2 linked regions of the Homo sapiens genome follow. Changing the gene in region 2 together with the main gene of any one other region gives a genetic interaction. Each region holds a gene or a part of one and is shown on either strand. Other genes may lie near its edges.

The links.
Region 1: changes in USPL1 (region 2) and NF2 together harm fitness more than expected from each alone (negative genetic interaction), as found in Homo sapiens cells (one large-scale study listed by BioGRID).

What each region holds. Positions count from the first base shown.
Region 1 is NC_000022.11:29,690,633-29,694,132, reverse strand, and holds part of NF2 (merlin), read right to left. Parts: intron 1-3,500. UniProt on the Homo sapiens protein: Probable regulator of the Hippo/SWH (Sav/Wts/Hpo) signaling pathway, a signaling pathway that plays a pivotal role in tumor suppression by restricting proliferation and promoting apoptosis.
Region 2 is NC_000013.11:30,631,163-30,635,183, reverse strand, and holds part of USPL1 (SUMO-specific isopeptidase USPL1), read right to left. Parts: coding exon 3,710-4,021; intron 970-3,709; exon of another isoform or gene 770-969; intron 1-769. UniProt on the Homo sapiens protein: SUMO-specific isopeptidase involved in protein desumoylation. Specifically binds SUMO proteins with a higher affinity for SUMO2 and SUMO3 which it cleaves more efficiently. Also able to process full-length SUMO proteins to their mature forms.

The sequences.
Region 1 (3,500 bases), on a different chromosome or scaffold from region 2:
CAGGCAGGGAGGGCTGGTGCACACAGGTGGCACTCTGCCCAGCAAATGTAAAGAAGGACAGTCAGGGAGATGTGGAAGGGGATGGGGTGGATCAGGGACCGAGCTCTTGGCATAGTGAGGTTTGCAACCTCCTAAGCCCTTGACTCTGGGCCACTTCCCAGCATCTCCCTGGATAGAAGCATCTGGAGCCAGCACTCTCCCTACTCCCTGCTCTCTGCTGACTCCTGAAATCAATGCCTTGGGTGTGACTGTGTTCCATTTCCAGCTCCGGGACTTCCCACAGGAGTGCGGGGGTGGAGGGGAGGGAGTCTGTACCATTCATCTTCATATCCCCCAAATATCTGGCTTAGTGTTATGTGCCGATCAGGAGCTCAATGTTTGTTAAGCGACCAGGACGTGGGCTATGAAGATAACTAAACTGAGGTTCGCGGGAGAGGCAAGAGCTCCACACCCGGCTGAGAAGGTCCGAGAGCTCACTCTCTGCCATCAGCAGCTCACTGCAGACACCCCTGACCTCTCTGAGCCTCTTTCCTCTGGAGGTTGCCATGGGGCAGGCAAGATGGTCTGGCCCATTCTCTGGACCCCTCGAGTCTGCATGTGAAGAGTCCTCGGTACTATCGGCGGCTCCATAAAGGGCAGGGGAGGGAGACTCCAAACCCACCACTTCACCATCAGAAGACAGACAGCATTAGTGTGCTCAGAATGAGACAGCTTGAGAGCAACTCTTTAAATCCTGCCAAATCTTTTGGCCTTGAAGTTCCCGACTAACAAGCGGAATGTGGGGAGGCAGCTCAGCTGCCTTCTTCAGTGGAACCAATTTCAGAGCCCTTTGGAAAGCCCGGTTCTGATGGGAATGGAGAGCGCTTTTTTGCCTAAATGGAACTCCCTCTAGAAGGGAGCTGCATCAGGATGGGCTTCTCCCTAAATGTAATCAGAGGAGAAGGGCCAGGAGTTATGTGCCCTGTGATGATGGGAACCAGAATGGTCACTGGGGAAGAAAGGAGGAAGAGATTTAGCTGCCAGATAACTACTGGGGCAAAAATGAGAGAGGGTTTAAATGAAAGCATGTGAGCCCAGTATCTCCGCTCAGGTTTCTGAAAAGAACAGCCACTTTGAGTCAGATACAGGCACAGTCAGCTGCCTGGTGCAAGGCCCAGCTGGGCCACTGACCAGCTGTGTGGCCCTGGGCAGGTCACTTGCTCCCCTCTAGCCTCAGTTCCTCACTGTGAAGCGGGCGTGATGGCAGCCCCTTCCTCGTGGGGTGACAGGCAGAGGAATTGGGAACCGCGTGTGATGCACTCAACACTGCACCTGGCGCATGGTGGGAACTCGGCAGCTGTTATTGCTAATAGCAACATCACGTTTCTCCCCTCCCTGGGGAGGGAGGAGCCCTGGCCCCTCTCCTTCCAGTGGGGAGCAGGGTGCTCGTTAGGAAGGGGTGCAGGCAACAACAAGGTCACGTATGGCACTGGCCTCCATGCCTACCAGGCGGGCCAAGTGATGCCCCTATGAAGCCTGGCCACTTCCCCAGGCAGGGAGCCCAGGCTGTGGGGGCCTTGAGAGGCTCCTGCCCATTTGTGCAATGTTGGCTCCAAGAATTCCTGGATCCTCCACCCGAGGAGCATGCTGGCTGTCCCCTCGAGGTGCTAGGGGAGGGTTCTGGCACTGCCAGCAGCACCAGATTCCAGTGACTCGAGCATGTGCTTATTAGGATGCAGAGTGCTCTGGGGTGGGTGGGGTGCTTCCTGAGCCCCACCTGAGCTGCACTGCAGCGCCTCAGCCCCACCTCTTATCTTGCAAGAGCAGGAGCTTCGCCTCAGCCACAAGTAAAGGTAGAGAGGGAAATCAGTCTGCCCACACAGAAGTAGGAAGGCACCACAGCCACTGGGCAGGAGAGAGAGCCACAGTCCTCCAGAAGGCACTGAGGCGGTCAGAGGGGAAGGCAGACCCACCAGCTGGAGGCAGCCACGACCTGGCTGCACTGGTCAGCAAGGGCTGCTGCCCGAGGGCCCTGGGAGCCTTCGGCCACTGCTGCTCGCCCCTTAGACAGACCTGGCTGCTGCCGCCCCATCCTTTACCCTCATTGTGCAATTCCTATGGGTTCCAATCCCCACAGGAGCCCCGGAGTCAGAATTTACTGCACAATGCTCCTCCCTGCTGCTGGAGGCCACCCCCATGGCTCTGCTTCCACCTTGGGGGTATCCTTTATCTCAGACACCACAATGCCCTCCTCCCAGCAGGTGAAGAAGGCAGGCAGTGAGACGAGGAGAGCCCTTGAGCTTCTTTCCTGCAGGTAGCAGCTCAGTGGAGCCATTTGCCCTCAGGCAGTTTTTCTACAGAGAGCTTGGGAAGCCACCCCGCGGAGCATGCAAACAGCTCTGCCACCTGCACGCCCTGCCTGGGCACTGTCTCGCCCCTCCAGTGGGCAGGCTCCTCACCTGTGGATCTTTCACCATCTGCTGCTTCTAGAAAGCTCACTGGCTGTTACATTTACAGTACACCCATAGGCAGGAAGTATTCATAAAGGAAAAGGCAAAAGCTCAGAAGAAATGGCAAAAAGCTAGCCCTTCATAAAATAAACTCTGCCTCCGAGTCTTCTTTTTAAACACATGAAAACCAGCTAACAAGTTTCCTGGTTCCCCTGCGATGCTCTCATACCCTAAGGTGTGCAGGCCCATCAGTGTTAGGTACATCTTCCTGCTCAGCAACCGGCCTGGGTCCCTCTACACTGCCCAGCAACACCTGCTTGCTAGAGCCAGAAGAGGCCTCCCAAGAAGGCCTTCACCTTGTCCTATGTTGCACTGTGAGTTGAGCACTGAAGCCACTCTGGTGAGTCCCATTCCCACCCTGAATTCCAAACAAAAATGTCCATGCTCCCTTTGGCAATCCAGCAACAGCCCTCCCCTTGCCCAACCTTGCCTGCCTGGGGAGTGGAGTCCCCCCAGGAGGGCGGGGAATTCCTCGCATGCACAATGAGTATCTTGAAGGTTATCCAGGAAGAAGAGGTCTCCAAATTTCAGCAGGTAATGAAGCAGAAGCACCTCAGGGTGTACAACCAGGGTCTCGAGGACAGTGGCTGCACCAGTCTGGGACTTGCCAAGTCTGGTCAACTGCCTTTGAATCCTTCTGAAGACAAGTGAGCCAAGCTCTGGTGAACCTGACCAGTGACGTCTGTCATGCACTGTCCTTCAAAACTTTCACTGAATCTAGACAAGGTCCAACCATGGGAGTCCCGCAGCCAGGCCCAGTTCCTTGGGCAGGCTATAAACCCAAGGGCCCTGCTCAGAGTCTCCAACCCAAAGCGCTCCTGCCAGTTCCCTGAAGATGCCTACAAGAACATGAAGCCTCCGCACCAGGCATGGGCTGACCCGCTGCTCTCCTCCAGCTGTCTCTTCACATCTGATTAGAATCAGCCGTGTGAATAACACAGGAGGAATTAAGTTCTCTCTCGACTGAACCGGCTGCTCAAGTCTGTCACTAATCCAATTCCATTCTGAGGA
Region 2 (4,021 bases):
AAAAGATAAAGACTTCCCTATAAATCAAGACAGTTTTTAAAAAGTAAAAACACAAGCTGCAAACTGGGAGCAGATTCAGCAACACATCTGATGTAACTCTAGCAACAATGATACAAGGAACAAACTCATACAAATCAATTAAAACGTGACAATCAACAGAACAGAACAAATAGGGATAAGATACAAAAGGCATTTCACAGAAGAGGGAACAAATATGAGCAATATATACACATAGAGCCGACAACCTCTTCAAAATGTGGAAACGGCAAATCAAGATCACAGACCATTTTATACCACTCAAATAGCAAAAATCTCAAAAGTGTGAAAATAAACCAAGAAGAATATATGGATCAGGAAGACCTCTTATATACACTATTAATGGGAGAATTGCTTGGTACAACCACTTTGGAAAACAATTGTCATTATCTTGTAAATTTGGACACGAAAGTCTATAATTTTCCATTCCTTTGTTATACAGAAGGGAAACTCATACTGTGCCCCAGGAGACTTGCCCCCCAAATGGTCACAGCAGCAGCATTTATAATGGCAAAAAAACCCCACTGTCCACTGACAGGTAGATGAATATTCTGTTATATTTACAAAATGGAAGTATTATGTAGCAATGAAAAATCAATGAGCCACAACTATAAACAGCCCCATAAATTTTTACAACAAGAAAAAAAGGTCCCAGAAGATCAAAACAAACTAAATTAGGCAATACGAAGTGGTCCCTCTTCATCCGTGTTTTGCTTCCTATGGTTTCAGTTACCTGAACTCAACCGTGGTCTGAAAATATTAAGCGGAAAATTCCAGAAACAATTTATAAGCTTTAAATTTCATGCCATTCTGAGTAGCATCATGAACTCTCTTGCTGTCCTGCTGTGTTCCACTGGCAACGTGAATCTTCCCTTCGTCTAATGTGTCCATGCTGTCTACACTCCTGCCTGTGGTTCACTTAGCAGCCATCTTGGTGATGCGATCTATTGCCATGGTATTGCAGTGCTTGTGTTCAAGCAACCCTTATTTGACTTAATAATGGCCCCAAAGCACGAGCATAGTAATGCTGGCAATTCAGATATGCCAAAGAGAAGCTGTAAAATGCTTCTCTAAGTAAAAAGGTCAAAGTTCTCAACTTAAAGAAAAAAATCATATGCTGAGGTTGCTGAGATCTAAGAACAAATCTCTTATCCATGAAACTGCGAAGAAAGAAAAAGAAATTTGTGCTAATTTTGCTGTTGCATCTCAACTGCTCAAGTTATGGCCACAGTGCCTGATAAGTGTTAAGATGGAAAAAGCATTCAATTTGTGGGTGGAAGACACGATCAGAAACAAATGTTCCAACTGACAGCAACATGTTGAGCCACATTTACTTTACTTTTTTTTTTTTTTTTTTTTTTTTGAGACAGAGTCTCATTCTATCACCCAGGCAGGTTGGAGTGCAGTGGCGTGATCCCAGGTTCAAGTGATTGTTCAACTTCCACCTCCTGGGTTCAAGCAATTCTCCTGCCTCAACCTCCCAGAGTAGCTGTGACTACAGGCGTGTGCCACCATAGCCAGCCAATTTTTGTATTTTTTAGTAGAGATGGGGTTTCACCATGTTGGCCAGGCTGGTCTCGAACTCTTGACCTCATGAGATCTGCCCGCTTCAGCTTCCTAAAGTGCTGGGATTACAGATGTGAGCCACTGCACCTGGCCCACATTTAATTTACTCTTAATTAAACTTGATCATAATTATGTATGTATAGGGAAAAACATTGTATATACAGGGTTCAGTACCATCCATCCCCCATTATCTGAGAGGGATACCTTCCAAGACCCCAGTGGATGCCTAAAACCTTGGATAGTAACTAAACATTTTATATATTATGCTTTTTCCTATAACTACATACCTATGATCAAGTTTTATAATTAGGCATAGTAAGATTAAAACTAATAATAAAATACAACAATTATAACAATATGCTGTAATGAAAGTTATGTGAATGTGGTCTCCCTCTCTCTCAAAATATATTACTGTACTATACTCATCTACTTTCAGACCTCGGGTTAAATGAAACCAAGAAAAGTACAACTACAATAAGGGGAGACTACTGTATACTGTTTAGATAAACACATGTAAGAAAAACTAAGAAAAGATGGAATGATGAAACACATTTCAGATAATGATTACTTATGGGGGGGAGGTAGAGAATGGGATGGGAGGAAACGCATAGGTAAATGTAAGTTATTGGGAATGTTTTAATTCTTCCTGTGTTGGGAGGTGGGTTCATAAGTATCCTATTTTACAGAGAATAAAATGAAAAACATATCCCTTATTGTGCCAAGAGATCTTAGGAGGTTGTGTGATTATGGGTGATTTTTACTCACTTCTTCATTCTGCTTTTCAGTAGTTTAAACACTTAAAACTAACCACTATTATCCTGACACCCTGAGACACAAGCACAGTCTTAGAGTTTTGAAAAAGACTGCCTAGGCCAGGTATGGTGGCTCACACCTGTAATTTCAGCACTTTGGGAGGCCAAGGCAGGCAGATCATGAGGTCTGGAGTTCAAGACCAGCCTGACCAACATGGTGAAACCCTGTCTCTACTAAAAATACAAAAATTAGCTGGGCCTGGTGGTGGGCGCCTGTAGTCCCAGCTACTTGGGAGGCTGAGGCAGAAGAATTGCTTGAACCTGAGAGGCGGAGGTTGCAGTGAGCTGAGATCATGCCATCGCACTCCAGCCTGGGCAACAGAGTGAGGCTCTGTCTTAAAAAAAAAAAAAAAAAAAAAAAAATCACAATAGCAAAGACTTGGAACCAACCCAAATGCCCATCAATGATAGACTGGATAAAGAAAATGTGGCACATATACACCATAGAATACTATGCAGCCATAAAAAAGGATGAGTTCATGTCCTTTGCAGGGACATGGATAAAGCTGGAAACCATCATTCTCAGCAAACTAACACAAGAACAAAAAACCAAACACCATATATTCTCACTCATAAGTGACAGTTGAACAATGAGAACACATGGACACAGGGAGGGGAACATCACACACTGGGGCCTGATGGGGAATGGAGGGGTTGGGGAAGGACAGCATTAGGAGAAATACCTAATATAGGTGACGGGTTGATGGGTGCAACAAACCACCATGGCACACGTATACCTATGTAACAAAACTGCACGTTCTGCACATGTACCCCAGAACTTAAAGTATAAAAAAAAAAAACAAAAAAACTGCCTTTTGGGCAGTCAGGATAATGTAACTGGTATTATCTCAAGCTTCGTGATACTGTTCCTGGGCTCCTTGCTCCCAGGCCTCCAGGAAACAGAAGCAATGGATGACATCTTTCCCACATGCTGGGAGACAAAACTCAACATTAATATTTTTAAGAATTAAAGACAAGTAGGCTGGAATGGTGACTCATGCCTGTAATCCCAGCACTTTGGGAGGCTGAGGCGGGAAGGGTGCTTGCACCCAGGAAATCGAGTCCAGCCTGGGCAAGACAGTGGGGCCACCATCTCACTATCTTAGCTGGCTATGGTGGTGCACGACTGTAGTTCCAGCTACTTGGGAGACTGAGGTGGGAGGCCCACCTGAGCCAGGGAAGTCAAGGCTGCAAGGAGACATGATCATGCCACTGCACTCCAGCCTGGGTGACAGAATGAGACCCTGACTCCAGATGAATAAATAAGTAAATAAAAATAAAATATTAGTACCAACCTTTAACACCACTCAATTGACTGGTATATAGAAGTGTATTTGCTTGATTATATTTTGTAAGCAACCGCCAGAATATAGATTCCTCCTTCGAGCACAGTCCAGTCACGGTGTTCTTTAACTCTTCCGAGTGCACCAAAGCTGACAGGATACAGTCTAACCAACAGAGAGCATAAGCATTTTTCCACTGGACACATAAAGCCTGGGGAAATGATGTACATTTGCTCTCCAGTGGCATTTCCAGTTTAGATGTACATCCTTCATTTTGAGGGGAAGGTCTGCCAGTTCCAGAGACATCAACTGTAGCAGGATCTT